Linked DNA regions of Homo sapiens. The protein of the gene in region 1 purifies or fractionates together with the protein of each later gene. This does not show direct contact. Each region holds a gene or a part of one and is shown in the gene's direction. Other genes may lie near its edges.

Region 1 (3,241 bases):
GGCCAAGAAGCACATGAAAAGATGTCTTAGTCTGTTTTCTGTTGCCATAATTGAATACCCGACACTGAACAATTTATAAAGAAAAGAAATTTATTTCTTACCGTTCTGGGGACTGGGAAGTGACCCGGCATCTGGGGACGGCAGAGGGTATCACACGGCGAGAGGGCAAGAGCGTGTATGTCGTTTCAGGCCTCTCTTCCTATTCTTATAAAGCCACCAGTCGCATCCTGGGGGTCTCACCCCGATGACCTTATCTAATCCTAATTACCGTCTCAGAGGCTGCGCCTCCAATCAACATGTGAATTTGGGGATTAAGTTTCCAAGACACACAATTTGGGGGATGCACTCAAACCACAGCAACATCATTAGCCATTTGGGAAATACGAATGAAAACCACCATGAGATAGCACTTGACACCCAGTAGGATGGCTACTGTAAACAAAACAAAATGAGGCAAACAGAAAACAGGTTTTGATGAGGCTGTGAAGAAATTGGGACTCTCATGCACTACTGTTGGGAATGCGAAAGATTACAGCTGCTGTGGAAATCAGTTTGGTGGTTCCTCAATAAGTTAAACAGAATTACCACACGAGCCAGCAGTTTGACTGCTAGAAATAGACCCAAAAGAACTGAAAAGAGATATTCAAAGAAAAACCTGTAGAGAGATGGTCATGGCAGTGCCACTCACAATAGCCAGAAGGGGGAAATAACCTGTCCATCAACTGACGAGTGGGTAAACAAAATGTGGCCTCCTATTCATACAACAGAATCGTACTCAGTCATTCAAAGGAAGGAAGTAGTGATTCATGCCTCTACATGGATGCACCCTGATGAAACCATTACGCTAAGTGAAAGCAGCCAGACACACACGGCCTCACATTTGGTCGTATAATTCCATCTATAGGAAATCTCCAGAACAGGCTAACCTCTATGGACAGAAAGCAGATGGACTAGGGGTTGCCAGGGACTATCGGGAACGTGTGTATGGGCGGGGGCAGGGGGTGTGTGTGGGAGGGTGTGGGGGCTGGTAGTGGTGGTGTGGAAGGAGGCGTGCGGCAAGTGACTGCTTATAGGTACAGGGGTTTCGGTTTCTTTTCGGGGTGTTGAAAACGTTTTGGAACTAGGTGGTCGTGATGGATGTGCAACATTGTGAAGGCGTGGTACCCGTCCTCCCCTCGCCCACCCCTTTGTCTTTCCCACGGTGTTCCCATCCAGTAGAAAGGGAAAGTTCCCACTGGCAAAGAGAGGGTCACCAGCGCGATTCCCCCTGCCCCGCCCCACCCCACCCCCACGGCCCTCCAGCCACTTCTAGGCCCAGGCCTGCTCCCTCGAGGCCAATGGGAAAGTGATGAGGTCACCTGACGGACGTGTGTCCCTTGTGAGGGGCCGTCACCACATGCGTGCCCGTCGCCGGATGTGCGTGCCCATTGGTCTCGGCTCCCTAGCCAATGAGGGGCTGGGCCCTGGTCGCTAGGATACACAGTACTGGACGCGGTAACTGTCCTCTTGAGAGCCATCTTGCCTAGCTGGGCCAAGCCGAGATAGCACACTCAACGCCCAGCATGCCGAGGAGGAGGAGACGCCGAGGGTCCTCCGGTGCTGGCGGCCGGGGGCGGACCTGCTCTCGCACCGTCCGAGCGGAGCTTTCGTTTTCAGTGAGCCAGGTGGAGCGCAGTCTACGGGAGGGCCACTACGCTCAGCGCCTGAGTCGCACGGCGCCGGTCTACCTCGCTGCGGTTATTGAGTACCTGACGGCCAAGGTCCTGGAGCTGGCGGGCAACGAGGCCCAGAACAGCGGAGAGCGGAACATCACTCCCCTGCTGCTGGACATGGTGGTTCACAACGACAGGCTACTGAGCACCCTTTTCAACACGACCACCATCTCTCAAGTGGCCCCTGGCGAGGACTAGCTTCTGACACCCGGCCCCTGGGACCTGACAGGTCCACTCGTCCACCCACCCGGCCCCAAATCCCCCGGCCTGAACCCCCGGCCTTAAACACCCTCCCCCCACAACCCAGGCCCCAAAGTCTTGGGCCTTCATTAATTCTGTCAATAAAATGTTTCAAGGAAGCCATCTGCCCGCTTCAGTCACTTTGCCTTGGGGTGGGGGTGGGGGGGCGGTGAGATGGGTTGGGGGGTTGTGAGACCTCCACAGCTGGAGGGATGGAGAGGTGGTGGGGGTCTGGGGTTGGGTGGGAGCCAGGGATGGCACAGAGGAGCCGTCTCTCCGGGTGACAGTGCAGGGGAGTGGCCCTGGGTGGGAAGGGGACACCCCCGCTGGTTCTGAGCAAGTCAGGGCCTGCCCGGGAAAGTCCTCAGCATGATGGTGTTCGTTGGGGCGGGTGGGCCTCAAGACCATGACTGCAGTGTTGCGACAGGACGGACTTCTAAGGCAACCGGGGTGGGGACGGAGAGGTGGACCCGGTGCTTGGCAAGGGGCCCTGGACCGGAAGACGGAGGACTGAGTAGTCGGGGCGGGGGGGGGGGGGGGGACAACAGTCCAGAAATGCGCAGACATGGAATTAGGGTCACGAGTTTCCTTTGGGTCATGTTCAGATGGAGAGGCTGTGGGATGCCTTTAGCAACCTAGACCACTTGCATTGCAGCCGAGCTAGCAGCAGCTGGTGCCCCGCCAGGCCCCGCGTACCTTCCCAGGGTCTTGGATCCGCATCCCCGAGACCCTCGATTTGCATACGCCGCTCACAGCCCGGCCAGGCCCCGCCTCCGATCCCGCTCTTTGCACCTCACCAGGGCAAGGGGCAGGCTCGGGCTGGGGAGCCGGCGCGGGCACGGCGGCAGCCCGCCGAGGGGGACGCAGGGCACGTCGCCCCGCCCCGGCCCGCCCGCCAGCTGCGGCGGCGCGTCGGGAAGTGCTTGGGGCGGCGAGCATGGCGGCAGCGGCTGCAGGCCTGGGCGGCGGCGGCGCCGGCCCGGGACCCGAGGCCGGGGACTTCCTGGCCCGCTACCGGCTGGTATCGAACAAGCTGAAGAAGCGGTTCCTGCGGAAGCCGAACGTGGCGGAGGCCGGCGAGCAGTTCGGACAGCTGGGCCGGGAGCTGCGCGCCCAGGAGTGTCTGCCCTACGCGGCCTGGTGCCAGCTGGCGGTGGCGCGCTGCCAGCAGGCGCTCTTCCACGGGCCCGGGGAGGCGCTGGCCCTCACCGAGGCCGCCCGCCTCTTCCTGCGGCAGGAGCGCGACGCGCGCCAGCGCCTGGTCTGCCCCGCCGCCTACGGGGAGCCGC
Region 2 (4,481 bases), on another chromosome or scaffold:
TAAAAGGCAAAAACCTGAGACGATGTTTATTTATTTATTTATTTATTTTATTTATTTATTTATTGAGACAGAGTCACTCTGTTGCCCAGGCTGGAGTGCAGTGGCGCGATATCGGCTCACTGCAACTCCACCTCCCGGGTTCAAGCGATTCTGGTGCCTCAGTCTCCAGAGTAGCTGGGATTACACCACGCCCAGCTAATTTTTCTATTTTTAGTAGCGACGGGGTTTCACCATGTTGGCCAGGCTGGGCTCGAACTCCTGAGCTCAGATGATCTGCTCACCTCGACCTCCCAAAGCGCTGGGATTACGGGTGTAAGCCACAGCGCCCGGCCAATACAACCTCTTTTGGTCTCTAAATCTACACTCATATAAATGCTTTTTTGATAAAGTTATATTTAACTCGAACCCATTGTTCCTTTCTTTCTTTTCTTCTCTTTTTTTCTTTGAGACAGAGTCTTGTTCTGTCACCCAGGCCGGAGCACAGTGGCGCGATCTCGGCTCACTGCAGCCTTCGCCTCCCAGGCTCACGTGATTCTGGTGCCTCAGCCTCCGGAGTAGCTGGGACTACAGGCGCGTGCCTCCACACCTAGCTAATTTTTGTTTTGCTCTGTTGGCCAGGCTTGTCTCGAACTTCTTACCTCAAATGATCCGCCCACCTCAGCCTCCCAAAGTGTGTGAGCCACGCCCCAAGCCCCATTGTTTATGTTCTGCAAAAAAAAAAAAAAACAGTCTCTGTGAATCCATAAATTTGACAAATTCCTAGGTTAAACAGGTTTCTTCACCGTAGAAGTCAGAGGTTCTAATAATAAATGTCAATTGCATATAGCTAAAATTTTTCTGAATTTATGACTTCAGTGTATACTTTTATAATCAGTGTGGGACATAATACAATTTGGAAAATATTGCTTGAATACTATTTGAAGATTGAAAGTATAAGGAACTTGGTGGCCAGGCAAGGTGGCTCATGCCCGTCATCCCAGCACTTTGGGAGGCCAAGGCGGGCAGATCACTTGAGGTCAGGAGTTTGAGACCAGCCTGGCAAAAATAGTGAAACCCCATCTCTACTAAAAATACAAAAAATTAGCCAGGTGTGGTGGCGGGCGCCTGTAATCCCAGCTACTCGGGAGGCTGAGGTGGGAGTATCACTTGAACCCAGGAGGCGGAGGTTGCAGTGAGCCGGGATCCCACCACTGCACTCCAGCCTGGGCAACAGAGAGAGACTCCATTTCAAAAAAAAAAAAGTGTAAGGAGCTTTGTATAATTCGACATTTTAAAACACTTTTCAGGAATATTCTCTATACCATACCTCTATCATTTTACCTCATAACCTTTTCATTTGTACTTATTTGAAGATTTGGGGGTAACTTTCTGCCCTAGGAATGGACAAGCGTGCTCTTGTGTAAGTAGAATAATATACCGAAAATCCCATGACTTCTGGAGGCCTAGCTCTGCCATTTTACTAGATGTGACTTTGGACAAGCTACATACCTCTTAGGGCTTTATTTTCCTCTTGTATAGAATGGGAATTAATTGTTCTCTTACAAGGATGATAGTGGGATGTGTGTACATATACATAAAGCCTTGTCCCTGCCTCCTCACCCCTACCCTAGCATGCTGGGAGCTGGAAGTTGAAATTCAAAATCTTTTGTGAGTGGCTTGTATATAATCAACTTTTGTTAGATTGTGTATGCTTTTATTTCACACAACCCTAAAATCTCATAACTTTCAAAAACAAAAGATTTATTTTAAACTTTCATTACAAGTTTTGTAGTAGTCCTGTTCCAGGCTACAGATTGGTTTCAGCTTTTTTCATCTGAAATTCAGGTTTAAGAACAACATCCCTCTGGGACATTGCTGTTCTTTGTGAGAGGGGACAAAGATCAGAGAACTGGTGCAAAATACTCAGTACCTCTTAAGGTTCTGTTCAGATATGGTACACATCACATGTGTGCAAATCAAATCACACGGTCAAGCCTAATGTCACTGGGGTGGAGAAGTATTAGCTTGAGCCATATTAAATTGTTAATTTGTTTGGTTTTGTTTTGAGACAGAGTCTTGGTCTGTTGCCCAGGCTGGAGTGCAGTGGCACAATCTCAGCTCACTGCAACCTCCGCCTCCCGGGTTATTAGTGAGTCTCCGGCCTCAGCCTCCAGAGTAGCTGGGATTACAGGCGTGCGCCATCATGCCCTAAATTGTTAATTTGTGTAGGTCAAAAAAAGGTGAATATTGGCAGTTTCATATAGTTCCTCTTGCATGAAAACATTGCAACTCACATGAAAATGGGTGGAGCTATATAGTCATCTTATGATTAGAGAAACAAATAACTGGGAATAAATAAAAAAAATTACCTCAGCAGGAGAACATCATTTATAACTTTATATTTTTTGGGAAAAAAGTATATTTTACATTCTAATAAACTCTACATATTTTATGGGACATGAATGTCTGCACATATGTACTGAAATGTGTTAATGTGCACAGACTAAATAATATATTCTGTTTTCAGTTAACAGTATTAAATTTGACTTGTTAATATTTTCATTGTAGGTATATTGAAGCAAGTCAAAGATTACATTAAACAGTGTAGCAAATGCCAGGAGAAACTAGATCGATCCCGTCCAATATCAGATGTTTCAGAAATGTTGGAAGAATTGGGACTAGACCTTGAATCTGGAGAAGAAAGTAATGAATCGGAAGATGACCTGAGCAACTTTACTTCATCTCCAACTACAGCATCCAAGCCTGCAAAAAAGAAGCCAGTATCCAAACATGAACTTGTGTTTGTAAGTGGTACTCTCCAGTCAGCTTTAAGATTTGTAACTAGTGTACTAGTATTTGCAGCCTTGGTGACTTATTTTTCTCAAACCACTAAGACTGCTTATTGAATAAGACAAAATGGCAGTGTACTGTGTTATATAAGCTGAACTGCCTCTTCATTTATCATAAATGTTCCTGTTATTTTTTCAGAATGAACTTAATAATTACCTGTTGGTTTGTTGTTAATTATCCTCCCTCCCTTCTTTTGTGATGATATATTGGTACAAGTAGACAGATTTACATTTCTGGAAGCAGTCTCTGAGTTTACGCCCCAAGGTAAAATTAATCTGGCCAGGTCTTTGTTTTTCACCTGCATCAGTTTCATACATCATCATATTTCTGATTAGTAAGAAGAGGCAGCCAGAAGTGAGATACAGATTTTCATTAGGTGAGGTAGAATGAACATGGCAGAAAATAGGATAGGACAACATATCTTTTTATTTAAATACATAGGTAACAAAGAAAATATCAAATTATTCATACCTGGTAAAAGGTAATATGTAATGTGTCTTGTTTTAAAGCTTGTTAAGGGTAAAAAATACAGGTAATATGTTACTCTTGCTCTCAAACTTATTTTGACAGGTTGACACCAAAGGAGTGGTAAAACGTTCTTCTCCAAAACATTGTCAGGCTGTCTTAAAACAGCTGAACGAACAGAGACTTTCCAACCAGTTCTGTGATGTTACTTTGTTAATTGAAGGAGAAGAGTACAAAGCTCATAAATCTGTTTTGTCAGCAAATAGCGAGTATTTTCGAGATCTTTTTATTGAGAAAGGAGCTGTTTCCAGTCATGAGGCTGTGGTGGATCTTTCTGGTAAGGGTTTTGTATTACTCTTGCTTTTTGTTTGTAATGACATTCTAGAAGAGGGGGATATGTATGTCTTCCACACACGGACTTTATGCCAAAGTAAGAGAAGCCCACTAACAACAGTAGACTAAGCTGTACTGAAAAGGTTCTTTTTAGCAAGATTTCTGTGGTAGAGTTATGGAAAAGGGTGTCATTTCCTTTCACTACGTCTTAAGTGAGACAATTATAGCAGAAAAAGAATTTCTAGGATTTAAACTGTTAAAAACAGTTTGAGTGAAATCCATAAGTGCAACAAAATTATTACATTAAATGAATATGTTATTTAAAAATTGATTGTTTAAGCTAGGTGTGGTGGTGCCCGCCTGTAGTCCCACCTACTTGGGAGGCTGGGATGTGAGGATCTGCTTAAGGTCAGGAGTTCCAGGCTGTGGTGTGTCATTGTACCTGTGAATACCCACTGCTCTCCAGACGGGGCAATATAACAAGACCCTGCCTCTAAAAATAAAAAGCAAATAAAAATTGACTGTTTATGTCTTATTTTGTGGGACATGTAATTATAGAGTATTTTATAAGTCTTTTGGTTTTTAAAGATTAATCCTTAGAGTTTATTAAGTTCAATAATCAAATTATCAATATAGAAAAGTCAAAATCCCAGGTTTGTTTTTTGTTTGTATCATTATTGTAAATAAATAGTTCAACTTTCTTTTGGCTTCACTAGAATTTATATATTGGCTTATGAGTCATCAAATGAAAATTTAGGAAGAATTATAGGTAGCATTATTTATACGTTTTCTCATCATATAAAACTTGCTGTAACTTTTGAATTACTTAAATCACTTTGAAATATTTTTTCCTT
Region 3 (4,481 bases), on another chromosome or scaffold:
CAGAGAAGGTCCTAGACATCATCTACCAGCCACAGGCTATCTTCAGAGTCCGGGCTGTGACTCGCTGCACCAGCTCCTTGGAGGGTCACAGTGAGGCAGTCATTTCTGTGGCCTTCAGCCCTACGGGAAAGTAAGGACAGCTGCAGACTCATGGAGGGGGTATGTGGGGGTGCAGTCTTTGCCTGGTTTGGGGAGGGTCTCCCAGAGTTATAATTGATGGGGCCTCAGGGCTGCCTACCATAGACCCAAGCTCTGGACTCAGCTTGCAATTAAGGGACTTCCTCAGTAGGGCATGGTCCCCAAAGGCTGCTTAAGGACCCCTGCCTTGGACAAACCTCTCCTAGACTTGATTTTTCAAGATCTGAGCTGTGTGACTTGTATAAATCACTTAACCTTTCCGAGTTAATTTTTCATCTGTGAAACTGGGATTAGTTGCTTCTCTCAAACTTAGAAAGGTAATGAGAAGCTTCAAAAGCTGGTTATAGCTGTGGAGAGGAAAGAAATGGCCTCCTGATGTATTCTCCCAGAGGACAGCATCAGTATTGTCTTTCTCCCTTCCAGGGGCGAGGAAAGAGTCCAGTTCCATATTCTATTCACAGAAAGTGATTGAATAGGTGGCACAAATGCACATGTGCAGTGTCAAGCATCCTCTCTTCTTCCCCAGGTACCTGGCCAGTGGCTCTGGAGACACCACCGTGCGCTTCTGGGATCTCAGCACAGAGACACCACATTTCACATGCAAGGGTCAGTATGCAATTAGCCATTTAGGGGGTCTTCTTTTTTTTTGAGACAAGGTCTTGCTCTGTTGACCAGGATGGAGTACAGTGGTGCAGTCACAGCTCACTTGAACTCCTGGGCTCAAGCCTTGAACTCCTGGGTTCAAGCAGTCCCCCTACTTCAGCCTCCAGAGTAGCTGGGATGACAGGCACTTGCCATCACACCTGGCTCGTTTTTTGTTTTCATACAGATGAGGGTCTCACTTTGCAGATTACAACCCCTTAATATCCAGTTGGCGGCTGTCTGTTCCTAGGTAGAGACCATGTCCTTGAGCCCAGCCAGCCACTTAGACACAAGCAGAAACTGCACCAAGGAGTCAATATGGGACATGGTGAGAGGCTGACTGACTGCTACCAAGGAGAACCTGGTTTAAATCCTGCCTCTGCCACAGTGGTTTTCAAACTTGAGCACAAATCAGAATTGCCCCGCCTCAGGGGCTTGTTAAAATGCAGATTGCTGGCCAGGCGTGGTGGCCCACACCTGTAATCCCAGCACTTCGGGAGGCCAAGGCAGGCAGATCACTTGAGGTCAGGAGTTTGAGACCAGCCTCGCCAACACAGTGAAACCCCATCTCTACTAAAACTACAAAAATTAGCCGGGCATGGTGGCGTGTGCTTGTAATCCCAGCCACTGGGGAGGCTGAGGCAGAAGAATTGCTCGAATCTAGGAGGCGGAGGTTGCAGTGAGCCGAGATGGCACCACTGCACTCCAGCCTGGGTGATGGAGTGTGACTCCATGAAAGAAAGAGAGAGAGAGAAAAGAGAAGAGAGAAAAAAATACAGATTGCTGGGCCCCACCCCCAGAGGTTTAGTTCTATTGGGCCTGGGGTAGGGCCTGGGAATCTGCATTTCTAACAAGTTCCCAGGAGATGCTGATGCTGCTGCTCTGACGACCACACTTGAAGAACCACTGCTATACCACAGATTAGTTAAGTGACCTTGTGTGTGTAGGGCATGTTCCCTTTCTAAGCTTCAATTTTCTCATCTGGAAAATGGGGATGATAATTCTTGCTTTGCTCCATAGCTTAGAGCTCTTGTGAGAAATAACAAGGGATGACATGTACAAAAACACTTCATAGCATGTGTCACATAAGGAGTCATTAGAGAGTGATGGTGTTATCCATGCAGCAAGATGCAGAGCTCTAACACTTGGGGTGCATTCTATCCATCCCCAGAAAGCCTCATCGCTCCTTTTGTTCAATCATTCATTTATTCAAATGGTTAAGGAGTACCTGGCACCTGACAGGCACTGCTGGGCACTTGGGATAAAGACAGATGTAGTCCCTTATTTCTCCCTCCTCTGCTTTCTTAGGACACAGACACTGGGTCCTTAGTATATCCTGGTCTCCAGATGGCAGGAAGCTGGCCTCAGGCTGCAAGAATGGCCAGGTAGGTAGTTCTCAGGGTAACTAGGCAGAGACTCAAGGGGGCCTTCCTAGGAGACAGTTCAGAATCAGGTTCAGGAGTCTTTGGGGAGGGTTGGGTGGGAAGTGGTAGGCAGGGATTTTGGTGGAGCCAGAGACCTGTTGGGGAGGATTATTCAGTGAGCTTCTGTCCTTCAGATTCTCCTCTGGGACCCAAGCACAGGGAAGCAGGTGGGCAGGACCCTCGCTGGCCACAGCAAGTGGATCACAGGCCTGAGCTGGGAGCCCCTCCATGCGTAAGTGACACTGACGGAGCTGGGACAAATGAGCCAGGGGATCAAAGCCATCCCCTTTCCCTGCCCAATGCATAGAAGTTTTACGTGAGGGGACAAGATGGGCAGCCTGAATGACCGTGATGGCTTGGCAGGCATGGGAGAAGGGTCTCGGGCAGACCTGCATTGCTGCTTGGGAGAGGCTCTCATCACAGGGTCTGCTGGTTGCAGTCACCTTGCAGTGCAGCCGGGTCTTGGTGTCAGAAAAGCTGTCAAAAGATTGTCCATGGCCTTTAAGTTGGGAATGGGGAGGTGCCATGGGCACACAGATGTTGCCAGGTCACAGATGAGGTCACATCTCCCTTCTCTCCAGGAACCCTGAGTGCCGCTATGTGGCCAGCAGCTCCAAGGATGGCAGTGTGCGGATCTGGGACACAACTGCAGGCCGCTGTGAGCGCATCCTCACCGGGCACACCCAGTCGGTCACCTGTCTCCGGTGGGGAGGGGACGGGCTTCTCTACTCTGCCTCCCAGGACCGCACCATCAAAGTCTGGAGAGCTCATGACGTAAGTGCTGGGAGGGTTCAGAAACCAGTCCAGAAAATCGCAAGTCACAAGATGCTGGCACTCAGAATGACCTTGACATCAGCGAGTCCAGTGTTTCCCAGATGTGTGCTGGGAGCCCTGGTCTAGGGAGGTGTTTTGGGAATGAGGAGTTCTGTGGTTGGTGCTGCACCATAGTGGAGATTGCAGAGTCCCCATGAGATCGTCACACTCTGGAAATTCCTCCTGTAGGACAGCTGTTGGGCTTTATCAGATCTACCATATCCCAAATGTATTGGACAGGAGCCGTTTACTCTGACATCCCTAACTCCTCTTCCATGAAACATTTTCATGATCTGGACTCCATTTTACAAGTGGGGAGAGACTTGACCCCAGAGGGGTAGTTTGATTAAGATCACAATGCATGAGTGATGATGATTATTAGTCTTGTACCACCTGTCTCCTGGGGCTAATCGCCCAGGCGTGGGGAGGAGTGTGTGTGTCTGACCTGACTCGCTCTCCCGTAGGGTGTGCTGTGCCGGACTCTGCAAGGCCACGGCCACTGGGTGAACACCATGGCCCTCAGCACTGACTATGCCCTGCGCACTGGGGCCTTTGAACCTGCTGAGGCCTCAGTTAATCCCCAAGACCTCCAAGGATCCTGTGAGTGATTGGGAGAAGGAAGAGCGGGGGCTGATTGGGAAGGAGCCAGTTCTCAAGCTTAATGGGGAGTGTTTGCTCTTTGTGTTGGATTTTCTTATCGGCCTTCTTCCTCATCTCCTTTTCTCCCCTCCGGTACCTGGTCACAGTGCAGGAGTTGAAGGAGAGGGCTCTGAGCCGATACAACCTCGTGCGGGTGAGTGTGTGCCAGCCACGTGCACCCCTAGCTCTGTACCAGTCCTTAGCCAATCACTAAAACCCTCTCAGACCCTTCTCCCTTCTAGACCCAGCTCAGAATGTACCTATTCCAAAAAGTTGTTCTTCATAATCCTAGTTTGCAATCCTAAAATACTAATGTGCTAGAGATCATTTTATTTCGTTTTTTGTTTAGTTTATTTGCTTGTCTATTTATTACATTTCCAACATGCTTCTTTTTTACTTTAATTTGTTGTTTAAGATTGTTCACACATTCACGTTCAAAAAATACAAAAGGTAGATCGCGGAGTCTCCCGTCTCTATTGTAGCATCCAGTGCCACCAGTATCCTGAATCACCTTCCAGAGATTTAATATACAGACACGTGTCTATATACAGTATATATGTATAAGCACACACACACATGCATACATACATAAAATCCTTCTTTTAACACATTATTTTGTGCCTTTTTCTGTAATTATGTATCTTAAAATTTTTTTCTACATGCATGTAGAGTTTCTTTTTCCTTTTGGATGAAGTGACTTGCCTGGGGTCACATGCGAGTGAGTGGCCAAGCCAGTCCTCATTGCTCCTAGCGCTGGCCTCTCTCTGTCCCTGGCATTGAGTAATCAGGGTGTATGCTTGCTGCCAAAGTCGGGCCCTCCTCCTT
Region 4 (4,369 bases), on another chromosome or scaffold:
GGCTGCAGGAAAGCTCAGAGCCAAGTCTGCGATAAGCTGGTGTGTGTAGGCCCTTACAGCCTGCATTTTTATGACCAAATAATAGAATAAATGCTCAGTCCTTATCACATGCTGTGAACTGTAGGCACCAACCTCACTCTTGCTTTTTCTTATTTTTCTACACTGATTTTTCCTTTTCTCCATTTCTTCACACATAGTACCTATTTGATTTATTTTATGCTGTTGCATTGTGAGTATGCCTTAAATTCTATGGGGACAAGGTAAGAGGACAAGCAAATGAAAGCTCAGAGAGACAAAAAAGGCTCTTCCAGAAATCTCCCTTGCTTCTAGCACCTGCTTCCCCTCCATCAGGCTGTCTTCAGTCTTTCTCCAGAGGCCTCTGCTTACAGTGTGTTGTTGTTTTCTTTTTAAGAGACAGGGTCTCACTCTGTCACCCAGGCTGGAGTGCAGTGGCATGATCATGGCACACTGCAGCTTCAAACTCCTGGGCTTAAGGGATCCTCCTGCCTCAGCCTCCTGAGTAGCTAGGATTATAGGTGTGCACCACCACACCAGGCCAATTATTTAAAAATCTTGTAGAGACAAGGTCTCACTATGTTGCTCAGGCTGGTCTTGAACTTTTGGCCTTGAGTAATCCTCCCACCTTGGCCTCCTAAAGTGCTGAGATTACAGGCATGACCCACTGCCCCCAGTCCCCATTTTCTTTAAAAGGCCTGAACATTTCCTTCCTCGTGTCAGTCCTGAACAATTCACATTTTCAGGGCTCTGCTCACAGGCCTGTGACTTAGCCTGCCTGCCTATGAAACCATTAGCAAATTGGAAATACCTCTTGCACCAGTCAGAAGGGGGATTGGTTTCTCTTATATGCACATACATTGGGTCTACTGCACAAATTACAGGGCTCCAAGTGTCTTATGAGAGCAGGACTTGGGCTGACCATGTCTCTCTGCCCTCACCCATGCTCTGCTCTGATTTCAGATCCTAAGTGTGAACGTGAAGTCCCCAGCCCTGCTGCTGAGCCAGTTGCTGCCCTACATGGAGAACAGGTATGGCAGGGCGGGGGTGGGGACCAGTCGGAGTTGGGGACCTGAGGTGGGCACAGAAATACAGTCGGTAGCACAGCCAGTAGTGGGTAGAGGACAGAAGAGGTCTGGGATCTCCACATCCCTCATCTTCTTGTCCTGCCTCCCCATCTGTGTGGCTGCCATTCCCAATTCCAGTGGCTGCAGGATGAGAGTAGTATTCCAGGGGCCCAGGCATAGCCTCCTTGGCCTTGACATCAGCAGGTTTGGGACAAGGCTATGCTTTAACTCCTTGACCTTGTGGGCTGGTCATTGTCACCTTACCTGCTCTCTGTTCTTACCAACTTAAAACCAATGACAGGGTTAGCCCCATTCCTCTCCATAGGAAAAAGCCTGTCCCAGACCTCTCCTCATGCCTGCGCTTGGTCTCCAGGGACCCTGCCTGTGTTCCAGGTCCTGCAGATCTGACTGTACCCCTCACAGACACACCCTTAGGAACTGGCCAGGGGCTGTCTTCAGTAGAAGGAAAGTTCCTGACTGTCACTTCTGGTCTCCCTTACCCCATCTGCTCCTTAGAGGTTGCTCATTGATAGGCACTCACCATCAGCCTTGGGTGCCTCTTCACAAAGCCCACCCTGCCCTCTCCTTCAAGCACCTGGCAAGAGAGGAAGCAGAAGATAAGGGTTCTGAGCATGGACATCGTATTTATGAGAAATAGGCATGGAATCCTAGCTCTGCCGTGTATTGGCTGGTACTAAACCTTTCTGAGCCTCAGTTTTCTGAACTCTGAGATGGGGACAGTAATAGGACCTGTGTTGCTTCTGTGAGGGTTGCATCATTTAATGAACTCATGATAGTGTCACCATCAGTGGTAAGCTCTTAGCTTCAGCTTCTCTTATGTTTGTCTTGTCTCAGGAGGGGTGCTGTCATCCTGGTCTCTTCCATTGCAGCTTATAATCCAGTAGTGGTAAGTGCTTGGTCCTTGTGCTCCTGAGTGGTATAGGGTGAGGGGCAACTTTGTTCTTTTCCTCAGAGCCTTACAGACAAAGTGCCTGGGACAGACCCCCACCATCCTCCTGCTGCCCTGGGCTGAGCTTGTCTCCATGTGGGTGGGAGGGCTGCTGGGCCTGTGAGATCCCTGTAGGTGAGAAATCCAACTGATGCTTTCCCCCACTCTCCCATATCCTAATCACTCTGTCAATTCCCTTCCCAGGCGCTGGGTGTCTACAATGTCAGCAAGACAGCGCTGCTGGGTCTCACTAGAACACTGGCATTGGAGCTGGCCCCCAAGGACATCCGGGTAAACTGCGTGGTTCCAGGAATTATCAAAACTGACTTCAGCAAAGTGGTGAGGATTGGGTGTGTCTTCCATCTCCCAGTCTGGCTCAGTGGGAACCCTTCCCAGTGAATAAGGGATCAAGGGGTGACTGAATCCTTAGGTCAGCATGCCTATGACTGAGGTCCTCATTGTTCTCTGAACTCAGCCATGGTGCAGTCCATCCATCCTGAAAAGATGCTCCTTCTTTTGAGAAGGGCAAAGCTGCCCTAGGTGTTCTGCCTGGTGGCCTTCCCGGGGCCCTGCCCATCTTGTTTTAGTAGCACTGACTCCTTCATTTCTTCCCTTTGCCCAGTTTCATGGGAATGAGTCTCTCTGGAAGAACTTCAAGGAACATCATCAGCTGCAGAGGCAAGTGGGGTTTGGAGATTTGGTGGTCCATGTGTGGCTAGGCAGGGGCAGTTGAGTCTATTGCAAGAGCAGACCCCTCCCTGTCATCTGGCCATTGTTTTTGCTGAAATCTGGAGTCCACATGGCCCTGGAGGGTGCAAGTAGCCCTGCTGCATCCACCTTGTTCCCCATGGAGCCCACTCCCACCTGTCATCCGTGAGCCCCAGAGCAGCAGAATCAGAGTACAAGATGCTTGACACTGTGTCCTTCTTCCATCCAGGATTGGGGAGTCAGAGGACTGTGCAGGAATCGTGTCCTTCCTGTGCTCTCCAGATGCCAGCTACGTCAACGGGGAGAACATTGCGGTGGCAGGCTACTCCACTCGGCTCTGAGAGGAGTGGGGGCGGCTGCGTAGCTGTGGTCCCAGGCCCAGGAGCCTGAGGGGGTGTCTAGGTGATCATTTGGATCTGGAGGCAGAGTCTGCCATTCTGCCAGACTAGCAATTTGGGGGCTTACTCATGCTAGGCTTGAGGAAGAAGAAAAACGCTTCGGCATTCTCCTTAGGACTTATCTGCTTGTAGATTTGGCTGATCCAATTAACATGTGGGGTTCTTGGTGTGGGTCTGGGGAGCTGAAGGATTTTATGGAGCTGGTGCTTTGGAGGAATCTTAAGGGAAAGGAGTAGAAGCTCAGGCCTTTGAAGGATTTCAGCTCCTCCTCTCTGTAATTTGTGCTTTAAGCATTTTTTTTCCTAAAATAAACTCAAATTTATCCTCAAGTCTGGAAGCATCTGTCAAGGGTAGAGCCCAGGGCAGCATGGTGGGAAGAGGCCTCTACCGCCAGCTGCCCTGAGCTCGTCGCAGACACACAGAGGCGGGAGTGAGTGTGCTGCCTTGCAGAAGGCTTTGTGTGTGCTCCATTATCTGAACTGGGCCTGCTGGGGGCTCAGCAAGGTGGTGGTGGGTGACAGTGGAAAGATTCTGGGGTTCTCCCAGGGGTCCTCCAGGCTAATACTTCTTAATGTTTTCTGGGCCACACAGGCCTTTGAGAACCCAGAGAAAACAGTTATACCGAATCTTGTGCATAATTCCAGTTAGAGGAGAGTAGTCAGAGCTGAAGTTCCTCTTGGGGTGAACACATGGCTTTCTCAGAAAAGGCCCTGTGTATTGTCCTGAGTCATATTCGGGGGCACCGCCCTCTGTGTATGCATACTGAGGCTCAGCACAGTGGAGGGGGAACAGTGGTCCTCGAGCCATCCGTGGCCCTGAGCACCACTCTTGCCACCCATAAATGTTGTCCTGAACCAGTCCAGAGGGAGGAACTGAGACAAGGCTTCCAAGCTGACCCCCGGCCTTGGTCTCATGGAAGCCCTTCAGCAACACCTCCTCTCCACACCAGCCGGGGACGGGTCCTTGTGGTGTGAATGGTTCAATTACAAAAGCATTTGTGCATCTTACTACAAGCTATGCATTGTGCCAGGCACCCTGGAGAACACAAACGTAAATAAGACCAAACCTCCCTCCAGTTCCTTCAGTGTGGTGGGAAAACAGAAGGTAGAATAGTCATCAGAAAATGAGGCAGAACATGTTTATTCATTTGATACATTTATTGACTATCATTCTGTGCCAGGCACTGTTCTAGGAGCTTAGGGTATAGCAATGAACAAAACAAAATTTGCTGC
Region 5 (4,481 bases), on another chromosome or scaffold:
CTATTGACGTTATCTTATTGGGGAGCAATTGGGGCGGTCACAAATCTCGTGACCTCTGGCTGCGTGAGTCCTGAGCAGTAGGGAATTACAGCAGGGCAAGCTGGGGAAGCAAGGCCTGCGGGCTGGTTCTCCTCAGGACACCTACATCTGAGCAGAATTCAGGCCCCTCCCATCATCCTAATCTTGTGGCCCTTCACAAGCTTCACAGAGGTGGCTTCGGTCTTGAGCAAGGAGGGGATTCGTTTTAGGGAGGGATGATTACTATTCTTGATTTAAAGTTAAACTCTAGATTAAATTCCTCCCGTGGTTAGCTTGGCCTGTGCCCGGGACTGAGTGGGGACAGCCACGCAAGTTAAACTCTAGATTAAATTCCTCCCGCGGTTAGCCTGACCCGTGCCCGGGACTCAGTGGGGACAGCCACGCAAGTTAAACTCTAGATTAAATTCCTCCCGCGGTTAGCCTGACCCGTGCCCGGGACTCAGTGGGGACAGCCACGCAAGTTAGACTCTAGATTAAATTCCTCCCGCGGTTAGCCTGACCCGTGCCCGGGACTCAGTGGAGTCAGCCACACAAGTTAAACTCTAGATTAAATTCCTCCCGCGGTTAGCCTGACCCGTGCCCGGGACTCAGTGGAGTCAGCCACGCAAGTTAAACTCTAGATTAAATTCCTCCCGCGGTTAGCCTGACCCGTGCCCGGGACTCAGTGGGGACAGCCACACAAGTTAGACTCTAGATTAAATTCCTCCCGCGGTTAGCCTGACCCGTGCCCGGGACTCAGTGGGGACAGCCACACAAGTTAAACTCTAGATTAAATTCCTCCCGCGGTTAGCCTGACCTGTGCCCGGGACTCAGTGGGGACAGCCACGCAAGTTAAACTCTAGATTAAATTCCTCCCGCGGTTAGCCTGACCCGTGCCCGGGACTCAGTGGAGTCAGCCACACAAGTTAAACTCTAGATTAAATTCCTCCCGCGGTTAGCCTGACCCGTGCCCGGGACTCAGTGGGGACAGCCACGCAAGTTAAACTCTAGATTAAATTCCTCCCGCGGTTAGCCTGACCCGTGCCCGGGACTCAGTGGGGACAGCCACACAAGTTAAACTCTAGATTAAATTCCTCCCGCGGTTAGCCTGACCCGTGCCCGGGACTCAGTGGAGTCAGCCACGCAAGTTAGACTCTAGATTAAATTCCTCCCGCGGTTAGCCTGACCCGTGCCCGGGACTCAGTGGAGTCAGCCACACAAGTTAGACTCTAGATTAAATTCCTCCCGCGGTTAGCCTGACCCGTGCCCGGGACTCAGTGGGGACAGCCACACAAGTTAGACTCTAGATTAAATTCCTCCCGCGGTTAGCCTGACCCGTGCCCGGGACTCAGTGGAGTCAGCCACGCAAGTTAGACTCTAGATTAAATTCCTCCCGCGGTTAGCCTGACCCGTGCCCGGGACTCAGTGGGGACAGCCACGCAAGTTAGACTCTAGATTAAATTCCTCCCGCGGTTAGCCTGACCCGTGCCCGGGACTCAGTGGAGTCAGCCACGCAAGTTAGACTCTAGATTAAATTCCTCCCGCGGTTAGCCTGACCCATGCCCGGGACTCAGTGGGGACAGCCACGCAAGTTAGACTCTAGATTAAATTCCTCCCGCGGTTAGCCTGACCCGTGCCCGGGACTCAGTGGGGACAGCCACACAAGTTAGACTCTAGATTAAATTCCTCCCGCGGTTAGCCTGACCCGTGCCCGGGACTCAGTGGAGTCAGCCACGCAAGTTAGACTCTAGATTAAATTCCTCCCGCGGTTAGCCTGACCCGTGCCCGGGACTCAGTGGAGTCAGCCACACAAGTTAGACTCTAGATTAAATTCCTCCCGCGGTTAGCCTGACCCGTGCCCGGGACTCAGTGGAGTCAGCCACACAAGTTAAACTCTAGATTAAATTCCTCCCGCGGTTAGCCTGACCTGTGCCCGGGACTCAGTGGAGTCAGCCACACAAGTTAAACTCTAGATTAAATTCCTCCCGCGGTTAGCCTGACCCGTGCCCGGGACTCAGTGGAGTCAGCCACGCAAGTTAGACTCTAGATTAAATTCCTCCCGCGGTTAGCCTGACCCGTGCCCGGGACTCAGTGGAGTCAGCCACGCAAGTTAAACTCTAGATTAAATTCCTCCCGCGGTTAGCCTGACCCGTGCCCGGGACTCAGTGGGGACAGCCACACAAGTTAAACTCTAGATTAAATTCCTCCCGCGGTTAGCCTGACCCGTGCCCGGGACTCAGTGGGGACAGCCACGCAAGTTAGACTCTAGATTAAATTCCTCCCGCGGTTAGCCTGACCCGTGCCCGGGACTCAGTGGAGTCAGCCACACAAGTTAAACTCTAGATTAAATTCCTCCCGCGGTTAGCCTGACCCGTGCCCGGGACTCAGTGGGGACAGCCACGCAAGTTAGACTCTAGATTAAATTCCTCCCGCGGTTAGCCTGACCCGTGCCCGGGACTCAGTGGAGTCAGCCACCCCAGACCTCTCTCACTGTTATCATTTTTGCACAGGTGGTTTCAGCAGCTTGATGCCAAAAAAAAAAAAAAAAAAGGAAAAGCATTCTGAAAAGCCATGTATGAGTGAATCATACTTAACTTGGCCTCCTTTGGCTGCACAGCCATGCCCTGAATCGCCCTTGTGGATCCAAGTGCATCTGTGTGGCTTGAGGCAGAGCTTCCCAGCCAGACCCAGTGTGAAAGGATGGGACGGCCACACAGGAACCTGGGCCCCAACTGCTCCCTCCAGACCTGGGTGGGACTTGCCCGCCATGCACACCCTGCTGGGGAAGAGGGAGTTTCTGAGAGTGACAGGAAGTGGCCCAGCCGGAGATTCAGCCCTGGGATCTCTGTGGCCAGCAACTGTGGGCGGGGGGGTATGTGGACATCTGCTTCCATTTTCCCCAAACCTAAGATTCTGTTCCCTGGTCTTCCCCTGGCATTTCTTCCTCGGGCCCAGAGCCCTCTCCTTGGGGCTCCCTATTACCCTGAGGGGAGGGCCAGCCCACCAGCCCAGGACCCCATCCTCATAGCCACAGGCCAGGCCAGCTCTGCTCAGGGCTGGCTCTCAGCTGCACTCTCCATCTACCCTGCCTTGTCCTCCATGTCTCCAGGCACCTCCCGCCAGCCCCAAGGATACCCACCTCCCAGACCTCCCTCTTCCCTCCACCCAAACCCCAGGGGAGTGCTACCCCTATGGCCCATGTGGCTCCATAAACCCCCTTGGTGCTGTGCCTGCTCAGGGTCCACAGGCCCTCCCTCCTCTTCCTCCTCCTCCTCCTCTTCCCCCAGCTCTGGGCTCCATCCGGGTGCCCCTCCCCTGTGGGCTTTAATCCAGCCCTCTCTCCAGGGGGACATGGCGACTGTGGGTCTTCCTGACTCACCAGCAGCTGCACCTCCCTCCGCCTCCGCCTTCATACCTCTCCCGCACTCCCTGTGCTGCCTGTGCCCCAAAGCTCTACCCAGAGTGTTCAGTAAAATCAGGGGCCACCGGAGGCCCCATCCTGACTGGGGGTTGGACCTGGGGTGTGGGCTGTGCGCTTGCCTCGTCCCTCTTAGGGCAGGGAGGCCACCCCTGGCCGGTGCCCCACTGCCCCACCACCCCGTGGCACCCACCCCTCCCCACTTCTTCATATTCCATCCCCCCTTGCCCATTGCTCCTGCGGCTGGGCAGTTCCATCCTGGGGGCCCCTCCCCAGCACAGTGCTGGCCCAGACAGCAATCCACGTTGACTAAAGACTCTCAAAGGGGCTTGCTTGCTTTCCATTTTAGATGGAAGGGAACTGAAGCTGAGTGCCTGTAATTCCTGCCCAGGGGTCTCACAGCAACCCTGGGGTCCTGCAGCCACATACCAAGAGCAGCCTGTGGCCCTGGGGTGGCCCTGAAGGGGCAGGTTCCTGTGGGGTCATCCTCTGAGCCGGTTTAAAATTATTCTGACAGGTGACGGCCACCCACGGACTCTGTCACTTGCTGGGATTCACACACGGCACGGAGGCAGAGTGGCAGCAGGTAAGGAGCCCATCCATCCCACTACCGAGGGGGTGCGTGGGGGAAGGAGGCTCCCCCAGGCCCCTGCCAGCCCCCACCCTCCATCTTGACCGCCCCCGCAGGAACTGGACCTCAGACCTGCCCTTGTAAAAATGACACAGATGTTTGCTTTCAACACCGGGCTCCCCAAATACTTCCAGCTGAATGTGTTCACTAAGGAAAGCGGTCTGAGTGCAGAGGCCGAGAGCCACAGCTGACACTAGCACGTGGCGCTTGGTCAAAAAGGTCCAATCAGCTAGAGACTAGGCCAGACCCAGGGCGGAGGCGGGAGCTCTGCGTGGAGTGAGTTCCGGGTTGGTTTCCTCCAGACCCATGCGCTCCGCCTACGGAGGCCCACGTGGGCTCCGGTCCACATGGTTAACACGCACGCAAGCCCGTGTTGGGAGCAAACTGCTTCTCTGAAAGTCATGAAAAACCTTT
Region 6 (4,481 bases), on another chromosome or scaffold:
ATCTGAATTGTAGAAAGTCATAGCTGTCACTGACATGAGAGGCTCGGTGTATCAGTACTTGCAGAGCACTTCAGACAGTACCTGGCATGTGGAGTTCCTCAGTAAGTGGCAGCTATTACCATTACAGTATTACAGACTCATAATGATAGACTGTTAGAGTATTGTATTCTAGACTTGAAGGGAAAGAAAGCCCAGGCTAAGGGGTGACGTGTAATCTACTTCAGCAAACTCAGCTAGGCAGTGACAGTTGTCTGAAATGCCCGAGCTCCCAGGTGCCGAAGGGCAGCACCCAACGCCTGGGTGCCATGGCAGGTGTGAAAATCACTCTCTTTCCCACACAGGTGGAGTTCTGCAAGTCATTCGGGGACCCGGCCAAACCCAGAGCCTGGAGCAAACATGCCCAGAAACCAAGCCAGCCCAAGCAGCCTCCAAAAGACTCTACTACTCCAGAAATTAAGAAAGTATGTAAAGGGTCACTCTAGCCTCTGTCCCCACTGCCAGCAGGGTAGTCACTCACTTTTGGTTCCCAAAGATGGGCCCTCCCAGGTCAGTGCAGTTCTGTTTCCCAGCTCTCTTCATCTGTGTGACCCTCACTCTCTGTGCCTTCTGTTTTCAGGATGAGAAGAAGAAAAAGGTGGCAGGTCAACTGGAGAAGGTGAGTCTGTCCTGTTGCCCAAGGAGGAGAGAGGGTGGGCAGCAGGTGGAAGAGGGTGGAGACTGGAGAGGGTAGAGGCTGGGAGAGGGTGGAGGCTAGGAGACCGTAGAGGCTGGAGAGGGTGGAGGCTAGGAAAGGGAAGAGGCTGGAGAGGGTGGACACTGGGAGAGGGAAGAGGCTGGAGAGGATGGAGGCTGGCCCTGGCAAGCAGAGCTGTGCCTCTGGTCTCCCCTGGCCTTGTCTTCTTGTCCTCTTAGTTTTGTCTAGTGAGGAGTCAACTCTGCCTTCCTCAGAACTGACCCAGCTGAACCTCGGGGTCCTCCAGAGAATGGGGGAAATTAGCTTGAGGGATCTTCTCACCCTCTTAAGAGTTAGAAAGATCAAGCCCCACCTGAGCCTTCTCTGCCTCTTCCTCTCTCTTTTTCCCGTGTCCCTGCCGCCCGGGTTCTGGTGCCACCAGCTGAAGGAGGATACAGAGTTCCAGGAGTTTCTGTCAGTTCATCAGAGGCGGGCGCAGGCAGCCACTTGGGCGAATGATGGCCTGGATGCTGAGCCCTCGAAAGGGAAGAGCAAGCCGGCCAGTGACTACCTGAACTTCGACTCCGATTCTGGGCAGGAGAGTGAGGAGGAGGGAGCCGGGGAGGACCTGGAAGGTGAGGGCATGGGGACTGTGTGCTCCATGCGCACGGACCTGTGCTTGCCATTGGGCTAACCGGCACTGGGGGCCCCTCTGTGCAGACTCTAGGAGTCAGGTGAGCCCTTGAGCTCTCCATTGGGGGTGATGATCCCTCTGCAGGTGCATCTGTCTTCACTGATCCTAGTTGTGTATTCAGTCAGTCAGTCAACAAATATTTCTTGAGCACCTATTATCTGCCAGGCATACTTCAGGCATTGGGACCATGTTGATAAGCAAAAGACAGAAGGGTTTATTCCCCTATGGAGCTGTGATTATGGTTGTGGAGAGAAACAATAAGCAAATAAGTCCACTGTTGGGTATATCATAGGATGATGAATGCTACAGAGAGAAAGCAGGAAAGGCGACAGGAGAATTATGAGGGAAGGCCTCCCTGAGGAGGTGAGGGAGTGAGCCTTTGTCCTCAGAAGGGGTTTGTGGTGTGGGGGAGGCCTGGTGGGCAAGAAAACAGTTGCAACACAGGAGGGTACGTGCTTGGTGGAGAACTGGGCATCTATTTGGGTCTAAAGGTGAGAAGATGTACATTTAGTGCAGTTATGCCTGGTAACGTTTCTGCACTAAGTTCACATCCGAGGAACTCAGGGGACTTAGTGGGACACGGTAGGGGAGGGGAGAGGAAAGGGGTTCCAGTCAAGGGAACAGCATCGCAGAGACACAGAGGAAAGGAAAGTGCATGGGCTTGAGGGGCTCAATGTGGGTTGGGATGGCTTGAGCAGGAGGAGACAGTGGAAGAAGCCCACGCAGCCAGCCCTGATGAGGAGCCTGGATTTCACCCTGAGCATTCAGAAACCCCTGGAGGGTATTAAGCAGAGACTGACCGTCCTGTACCTACTCTGTAAAGTGTCACAGAGGCTGCCGTGTAGAGGACTAGGAAGACATGGCTGGTGGCAGGGAGCCAGGAGCTCAATGTGTGGCACAGAGAATATCAAAGCTGCAGTAGCCCTGCCCCGTTTTGGTATTGCTAATCAGAGGACTTATGGGGGATGCTGGGCACAGGGGCCATGGACACGGTGGGCATGGTGCCTCAGGCCTCTCACTAGGAGGACCATCTACCATTTGCTACCTCTGACCTCTGGTTTGCTCATAGCTGTCGCTGATCCCAGCTTCCCTGTTTTTCCAGAAGAGGCAAGCCTCGAACCAAAGGCAGCTGTGCAGAAGGAGCTGTCGGACATGGATTACCTGAAATCCAAGATGGTGAAGGCTGGGTCGTCCTCTTCCTCGGAGGAAGAGGAAAGTGAAGATGAAGCCGTGCACTGTGATGAAGGGAGTGAGGCCGAGGAAGAGGATTCCTCCGCCACCCCAGTCCTGCAGGAAAGAGACAGCAAGGGTGCAGGCCAAGAGCAAGGGATGCCAGCTGGGAAAAAGAGACCACCGGAGGCCAGAGCCGAGGTGCGTGTGTATCCCGCAGGTGATGAGGGAGGAGGTGCGCTCTCCTGCTTGCCCGTGGTCCCCACAGCTCCTCTGTTAGGAGAGCGGAATGTTGGGGAAAGACGCAGCTCTGCAGTCCAAAGCCTTCCCGATCTTGGCCCTGCCGCTTGCTCGCCGTGTGTTCTTTCTGCGTTTCTTTTCTGTTTTTATTTTTATTTTATTTTATTTTATTTTTTGAGACAGAGTCTCACTCTGTCACCCAGGCTGGAGTGCGGTGGTGCAATCTCAGCTCACTGCAACCTCCGCCTCCTGGGTTCAAGTGATTCTTCTGCCTCAGCCTCCTGAGTAGCTGGGATTATAGTCACACCCAGCTAATTTTTTGTATTTTTAGTCGAAATGGGGTTTTGTCATGTTAGCCAGGCTGGTCTCAAACTCCTGACCTCAAGTGATCCACTCATCTCAGCCTCCCAAAGTGCTGGGATTATAGGCATGAGCCACTGCACCCAGCCTCTGCATTTATTTTCTGTTGCTAACCTGGAGAGGTCACCTGCCTTCCAGAAATTGCCTATAAGTAGGGTGACAACTAAATTATTGTCAACACTAAGTTAAAAGTGAGATGCTAGTCCAGTGGGGTGCCAGGCTGTGGATGTAGTTACTGCAGGTCTAATGACTACAGATAGAGTGAACAACTATCCCGGGCAAACTGGAGCAGCCCCGGTCAACACACCCATATCCCACCAATGGGGCAGAAGTGAGCTGAGTGATGGCTTTGAGCCTTTATCCTTTGTATTTAGTAACAACACAGGCAGAGGGGTGCAGACCAGTCATCAGCAATCATAGGGAGGATCAACTGAGCCTGCGCTACACACTAGGCACCATGCCTGCCGTGCCGTTGCATCTCATCACTATCTGGAGGGCAGTATTGGTCTTGTTCCATTTTACAGATGAGGAAACAGGCCTGGAGAAGGAAGGTGCCTCAGCCAGGGTCATGGCTGGGAAATGGTGGGTTCAGGACTTAGCCCCAGGTCTGTGGGGTCTGAAGTCGAGATCATAAACGTGGGCGCTTCCCCAGAGGTCGGCCAACTCGTCTCTGACCTGGGAGTCCTCTCTGCATCAGAGACAGAGCAGTTTGACATGTTGTCCAGGTCCCTGTTCCCTCCTTTCTCTGTGAAGCATCACTTCTCTCCCTGCCTAGCCCTGTATTTTTTTTTTTTTTTTTTTTTTTTGAGACAGTCTTGCTGTCGCCCAGGCTGGAGTGCAGTGGTGTGATCTCAGCTCACTGCAGCCTCTGCCTCCCGGGTTCAAGTGATTCTCATGCCTCAGCCTCCCGAGTAGCTGGGATTACAGGCACACACCACCACACCCAGCTAATTTTTGTATTTTTAGTAGAGATGGAGTTTCACCATATTGTCCAGGCTGATCTTGAGCTCCTGGCCTCAAGTGATCAACCCACCTCAGCCTCCCAAATTGCTGGGATTACAGGCCTGAGCCACTGCACCTGGCCCCAGCCCTGTATTTTCAAATGAGATGAAAGCAAGCTTCATCCTCTTTTCTTTCCTCTTTTCCCTTTCTTCTTCCTCCCTCCTTTTATTTTCTGCCTCTTCTAATTATGCACTCTGTCCTTTTCTTCCCCCCCAAAATTGTATATTTCAGTGAGGTAGTAGAGTGTGGGGAAGTCAGAATTATGAGTTCAAATCCTAGTTCCATCATTTAGTGGCTGTTGGTCCTTGGGTGAGATACTTTACTTCCTTCAGCCTCTGAATT
Region 7 (4,481 bases), on another chromosome or scaffold:
TAATTACTTAGGTAAAAGAATCCTTAGGGAACAAAGAACTGTTGTTATTGGTAGGTTAGTCTGAAGCTGACAGTCATGGCTAAAGAAAGCCGACATGTAAAACCAAGTCATTATTTCAAGCAAAGAGGAAAATAACATATTCTGAGAGAACCCAAAACTCCAGAATAACAAGCACTGGCTACTCAAGGGATGCTTTTATATTCATTTGTAAATCAGAAAAGAAGGCCAAAGAAAATAGAGGAATTGGATGTTCCTTCTCCTAGGGGAAGTTTGGACATCATGCATTTAAGCACATTCCTGTAATGGAAATAAGAAGCAACAGGCAAGAGATCCCTAGTGCTGTGTAGCCTGTAATCCGCAATCAGGCAGAGACTCGGGGACTCAGAGACTCGAAAGGCAAGGGAGGTAGGAAGTAATTGTGGTAGAGGTGATGGATGGAGCAGCATTCTCATTTGGAATGGGAACAGGGCGTAGGAATTTTCTCCAGGCCGTCTGAATCTGGAGGAGCAGCTTGAGAGGAGAGAATGAGAGAGATCCAGGCGCTAGGGTAGAATGGTAATGAATGTTTCCGCTTCCTGGGCACGGGCTGAGATGCGCATTCCCCCTCGCCCCTCTCTCCTGTGCGGTCTCCAGTGTGCTTTGTTGGTGGAGAGAAAAGATTCGTTTTCCCCCACCCCTCTTTTCTCCTTGGGTGAATGGGTTCCTAGGAATATGGATTGACACACCCTTCACAAGGTGGATTCTTGCTTCCCTTAAAACAGACTCCATTAGTTAACATTCAACTGGAAAAATGCTGCTTCTTCATCCTTACCTTATCTTGATTGATTTAACAGTTAAGAATGGCTGGTGAGGTCTGGTAGATGAGTGAGCTGAGACTTTTTTCTTTTTTCTTTTCTTTACCTTTTGGAAGAAGCTGAGTCAAAGAGTCTGATTGCAAACCCTAAACTGTTGCTTGACATATGGGGCATAATGATCTCTGCAGGGAGAGATGCAATTCTGTGGGCAGTCAGGCTTCACTCCGAGCTCTGTTTTCATGGACTAATGCATCTCTTGTTGATCTTTCCTTCTGGGAACAACGCAGCAAGCAAAGGCTACGAAAAGAAAATACCAAGCGTCCAGTGAGGCTCCCCCAGCGAAACGGAGGAACGAAACTTCATTTCTCCCAGCCAAGAAAACTAGTGTTAAAGAAACTCAGAGGACTTTTAAGGGGAACGCACAAAAAATGTTTTCTCCAAAGAAGCATTCGGTTAGCACAAGTGATAGAAACCAGGAGGAGAGACAGTGCATTAAGACTTCATCACTGTTTAAAAACAACCCTGACATTCCAGAACTCCACAGGTATGTCCAGGGGCGGATGCCCTTCAGGAAGAAAAAAATGTGTTCTGCCTTTTCTTTGTTAATATTGGCACTGATGCCTGGGTTCTTGTTCATCATTTGCAGACCTGTGGTAAAGCAGGTGCAAGAAAAAGTGTTTACTTCAGCTGCTTTTCATGAGCTGGGCCTCCACCCACATTTAGTAAGTACCTTTCAGTGTTTTCTGGGTCAGTTTTTTTTGGTGTGTTTGTCCGTTCAGAAGGTCTGTGAAATGGCCGCTCTAGGAGGAGAGATCAGAGAGTGTTTGTTTCTGCTCTAAGTTACCTGAATGAACTCAGATTGATATGATACTCTTCTAGGACAGTTCAAGGGTGCTTAGGTTACTGTTCACTGTTTTCTGGCCCCCCCTTCCCCCATCCTCTGTTTTTTTGTGTTTTTGTGTGTGTGTTTTTTTAAGTATTGAAGACTTTCCTCGACTAACGTGATTTAGGGTCAGGACATCACTTGCTAAACTTAAAACAGCTCCCTATTTACTGGATAGTTGTAGTGGTGAAGCCATTTGTGGTGGCAGATGTCACAGTGGCCATAGGAGAGGGAACTGTGCTGGCATCTTGCTGTTAAAGGACGTCCACAGTTTTAGAGAAGTAAGGGAAGAAGAGTATTTTGGTGTGTGTTCTACAAACAAATGGACACTTTAAAGGAAAAAAAGTGAGTTCTCCAGACTCATGAGTAAGAAGAAAAAAATATATTAACTTTTAGGCAGGCTTGGTTTCCTCTGCACTTTCGGTTACAGCTTACTACCCCTTCTGTAGGGTGGGTTACCTAAACTTGTTTTCTCACCTGGGGGGTGGATCAGGGTTTCTCAGCCTTGGTGCTGTGGACATTTTGGACTAGGTCAGTCTTAGTTTTGGGGACTGTCCTGTGCACTGTAGGATGTTCAGCAGCATCCCAGGCCTCTACCCACTAGATGCCAGCAGTGCCCCCCTCCCCTGGTTATAACAAGCACAAATTTTTCCAGACTTTGCCCTGTGTCCCCAGGGAGTTAGGGCGGGTGGCAGAATCGCCCCAAGTAGAGAGCACCACCTGGGTGGAGGAACTTAATTTGATCATAGTAGTCAATGTTCTCTCAATAGTTTCTCCTTTCTTGTGTAATTTCCGTTAAATATTTTGTATCAAAATATTAATTAAAGCTTTTTCATCTCCTCTTTTAGATTTCCACAATAAATACGGTCTTAAAAATGTCTAGTATGACCAGGTAAGAACTTCAGGCTCCTCTTGATTTCTTAGGCATTACGTGGGTATAACCGGACGAAACCTGTGTGTGCAAGGCAGAGCAAATTTGTGTCTTGGCGTTGGAACACAGTGCCAGGTTATCGACCATAAAGGGTTGTCGTCTCACTTAGCTACTCATTCTCTCCACCTGTTAAATGGAAAGACTGGCTTTCCATCCAGTTCTGCCCTTGGCTCTGAACCGCAAGAGACGTCTCATCCAGAAGGTGGGCTGCATGAGCGCCGCTGTTTTCTGTGCTTCCCTGAAAAGAATTTGGCCAAAATATAGCATGTGACCATGTCGTTTCTTAGTAGTAAGAATTAGGGTCAACCAAAAAGACAAGAGTAAATGTTCAGTTGGATAGAGTGGGATACTGAAAAAATGTTTTCAATGTTTGTTACAGGGAATGACTCCTGGAAAATAAAGAAGTAAAATAGGTGCGAGGAGATGAGCTTCCTTGTTTTGAGTATTTGTGCTTCTGTGCATTTTCATAATGATTTTTTACTTTTACTAGTAAAAATTAATAGGAATATTAAAGTCCAAATTAAGGGACCTCCCCACAAGTTTTTTATCAACCAAATTTAAGTGATTTTTGTGTCTCTTTTGTTTCTTGTTTTAAAATACATGTGTAGACACACATTTCAGCATGTCCATAACCTTTTCCTGGAGAATGGACAGCTGCTGCTGGCTCTCTGAATAGTTGGCGAGCTTCCTCCTGCTATCCTGCATGGAAACCTTTCCATTATGTTTCGTTGTGTTTCATATTCCTGTTAGTGAGGGCAAGAGTGTGTGATACACTTGGTGGTAACTCTGATTTGTTGTCATGCCTGTTTCTTTTTCTTTTTTTTTTTTTTTTTGAGACGGAGTTTTGCTCTTGTTGCCCAGGCTGGAGTGCAGTGGTGCGATCTTGGCTCACTACAATCTCTGCCTCCCAGGTTCAAGCGATTCTCCTGCCTCAACCTCCTGAGTAGCTGGGATTACAAGTGCGTGCCATCACTCCCAGCTAATTTTTTGTATTTTTAGTAGAGATGGGGTTTCATCATGTTGGCCAGGCTGGTCAAACTCCTTACCTCAGGTGATCCACCCACCTCAGCTTCCCAAAGTGCAGGGATTACAGGTGTGAGCCACTGCAGTCGGCTGCCTGTCCCATTTTTAAAAGAATTAGTTTAATAGAATGGCCAGTCTCTGGTTTGCCTCACCATTTTCAGGCTAAGTTCTAAAAATATAACTAGGGTTTGATCTTTATAATCATCAAAAGTTTCTTCACACCTTTATTTGAATGCTTTGATAGCTTCTAAGGAGGCAGTTGCCAGATGAATCCAAGTGTGGGCAGTTGCCTTTTATGTATCCTGCGTCTCTGCCAGTAACTGGGTAATATAGGTAAAGTGTGTTCTTTTTTTCGGGTGGCCCAGTGTTCAGAAGCAAAGTATTCCTGTGTTGCTGGAAGGCAGAGATGCTCTCGTGAGATCCCAGACGGGCTCAGGTTAGTCTCATTTCATCTCTGCCCTTTTTCATCTGCTCAGGCCCATGGTCATGCACTAGGTTTTGCCATGCGGTGTCTGGGTTGGTGGTGGTGGCAGTTTTGTTTCGTTTGGGGGAGGGAGGCCATGCTTTTGATTAGAGCCCTGAATGTGTTCACATAATGAAAGGAAGGGGACAGTTGATGGTACCACGATGAGAAATGATTAGGAAGTAGTCAGGTTCGGCTATAATTTCCTCAGAGCCTATTTCGGGGCTTTACCAAGGTGTGGTGGCCACAGTTGCCCATTCTCACTCTAGTGGAGAATGAATGTCTTCTTCTGGTGTTAAACACAGAGTGATTTCTGGCCTGAGCGTACACTGATCAGATGCCAGTTGTGCTCGAGGACAGAACACTGTTTCTGCCGTGTTCCAGGCC

What was found.
Region 2: the proteins of H2AB3 (region 1) and ZBTB11 purify together in Homo sapiens (affinity purification with mass spectrometry, with the first as the bait; one large-scale study listed by BioGRID). This does not show direct contact.
Region 3: the proteins of H2AB3 (region 1) and NLE1 purify together in Homo sapiens (affinity purification with mass spectrometry, with the first as the bait; one large-scale study listed by BioGRID). This does not show direct contact.
Region 4: the proteins of H2AB3 (region 1) and DHRS2 purify together in Homo sapiens (affinity purification with mass spectrometry, with the first as the bait; one large-scale study listed by BioGRID). This does not show direct contact.
Region 5: the proteins of H2AB3 (region 1) and YBEY purify together in Homo sapiens (affinity purification with mass spectrometry, with the first as the bait; one large-scale study listed by BioGRID). This does not show direct contact.
Region 6: the proteins of H2AB3 (region 1) and RBM19 purify together in Homo sapiens (affinity purification with mass spectrometry, with the first as the bait; one large-scale study listed by BioGRID). This does not show direct contact.
Region 7: the proteins of H2AB3 (region 1) and DDX31 purify together in Homo sapiens (affinity purification with mass spectrometry, with the first as the bait; one large-scale study listed by BioGRID). This does not show direct contact.

The regions. Positions count from the first base shown.
Region 1 is NC_000023.11:155,458,249-155,461,489, reverse strand, and holds H2AB3 (histone H2A-Bbd type 2/3), read left to right. Parts: upstream 1-1,484; 5' UTR 1,485-1,562; coding exon 1,563-1,910; 3' UTR 1,911-2,075; downstream 2,076-3,241. Other genes in the region: F8A3 (40-kDa huntingtin-associated protein), read left to right, coding at 2,890-3,241. UniProt on the Homo sapiens protein: Atypical histone H2A which can replace conventional H2A in some nucleosomes and is associated with active transcription and mRNA processing.
Region 2 is NC_000003.12:101,670,280-101,674,760, reverse strand, and holds part of ZBTB11 (zinc finger and BTB domain-containing protein 11), read left to right. Parts: intron 1-2,547; coding exon 2,548-2,783; intron 2,784-3,399; coding exon 3,400-3,631; intron 3,632-4,481. UniProt on the Homo sapiens protein: May be involved in transcriptional regulation.
Region 3 is NC_000017.11:35,135,498-35,139,978, reverse strand, and holds part of NLE1 (notchless protein homolog 1), read left to right. Parts: coding exon 1-130; exon of another isoform or gene 131-159; intron 160-664; coding exon 665-744; intron 745-2,088; coding exon 2,089-2,165; intron 2,166-2,338; coding exon 2,339-2,436; intron 2,437-2,785; coding exon 2,786-2,978; intron 2,979-3,481; coding exon 3,482-3,617; intron 3,618-3,763; coding exon 3,764-3,810; intron 3,811-4,481. UniProt on the Homo sapiens protein: Plays a role in regulating Notch activity. Plays a role in regulating the expression of CDKN1A and several members of the Wnt pathway, probably via its effects on Notch activity. Required during embryogenesis for inner mass cell survival.
Region 4 is NC_000014.9:23,642,174-23,646,542, forward strand, and holds the end of DHRS2 (dehydrogenase/reductase SDR family member 2, mitochondrial), read left to right. Parts: exon of another isoform or gene 1-265; intron 266-978; coding exon 979-1,046; intron 1,047-1,937; coding exon 1,938-1,989; intron 1,990-2,235; coding exon 2,236-2,370; coding exon of another isoform or gene 2,371-2,381; intron 2,382-2,653; coding exon 2,654-2,709; intron 2,710-2,968; coding exon 2,969-3,080; coding exon of another isoform or gene 3,081-3,129; 3' UTR 3,130-3,466; downstream 3,467-4,369. UniProt on the Homo sapiens protein: NADPH-dependent oxidoreductase which catalyzes the reduction of dicarbonyl compounds. Displays reductase activity in vitro with 3,4-hexanedione, 2,3-heptanedione and 1-phenyl-1,2-propanedione as substrates.
Region 5 is NC_000021.9:46,292,209-46,296,689, forward strand, and holds part of YBEY (endoribonuclease YbeY), read left to right. Parts: exon of another isoform or gene 1-310; intron 311-3,953; coding exon 3,954-4,022; intron 4,023-4,481. UniProt on the Homo sapiens protein: Single strand-specific metallo-endoribonuclease involved in rRNA maturation.
Region 6 is NC_000012.12:113,956,039-113,960,519, reverse strand, and holds part of RBM19 (probable RNA-binding protein 19), read left to right. Parts: intron 1-341; coding exon 342-461; intron 462-616; coding exon 617-655; intron 656-1,115; coding exon 1,116-1,308; intron 1,309-2,469; coding exon 2,470-2,738; intron 2,739-4,481. UniProt on the Homo sapiens protein: Plays a role in embryo pre-implantation development.
Region 7 is NC_000009.12:132,659,296-132,663,776, reverse strand, and holds part of DDX31 (ATP-dependent DNA helicase DDX31), read left to right. Parts: intron 1-359; exon of another isoform or gene 360-405; intron 406-450; exon of another isoform or gene 451-552; coding exon of another isoform or gene 553-555; intron 556-1,081; coding exon 1,082-1,338; intron 1,339-1,440; coding exon 1,441-1,516; intron 1,517-2,525; coding exon 2,526-2,569; intron 2,570-2,576; exon of another isoform or gene 2,577-2,810; intron 2,811-3,996; coding exon 3,997-4,067; intron 4,068-4,481. UniProt on the Homo sapiens protein: May have DNA helicase activity and RNA helicase activity. Probably have ssDNA and RNA dependent ATPase activity. Plays a role in ribosome biogenesis and TP53/p53 regulation through its interaction with NPM1.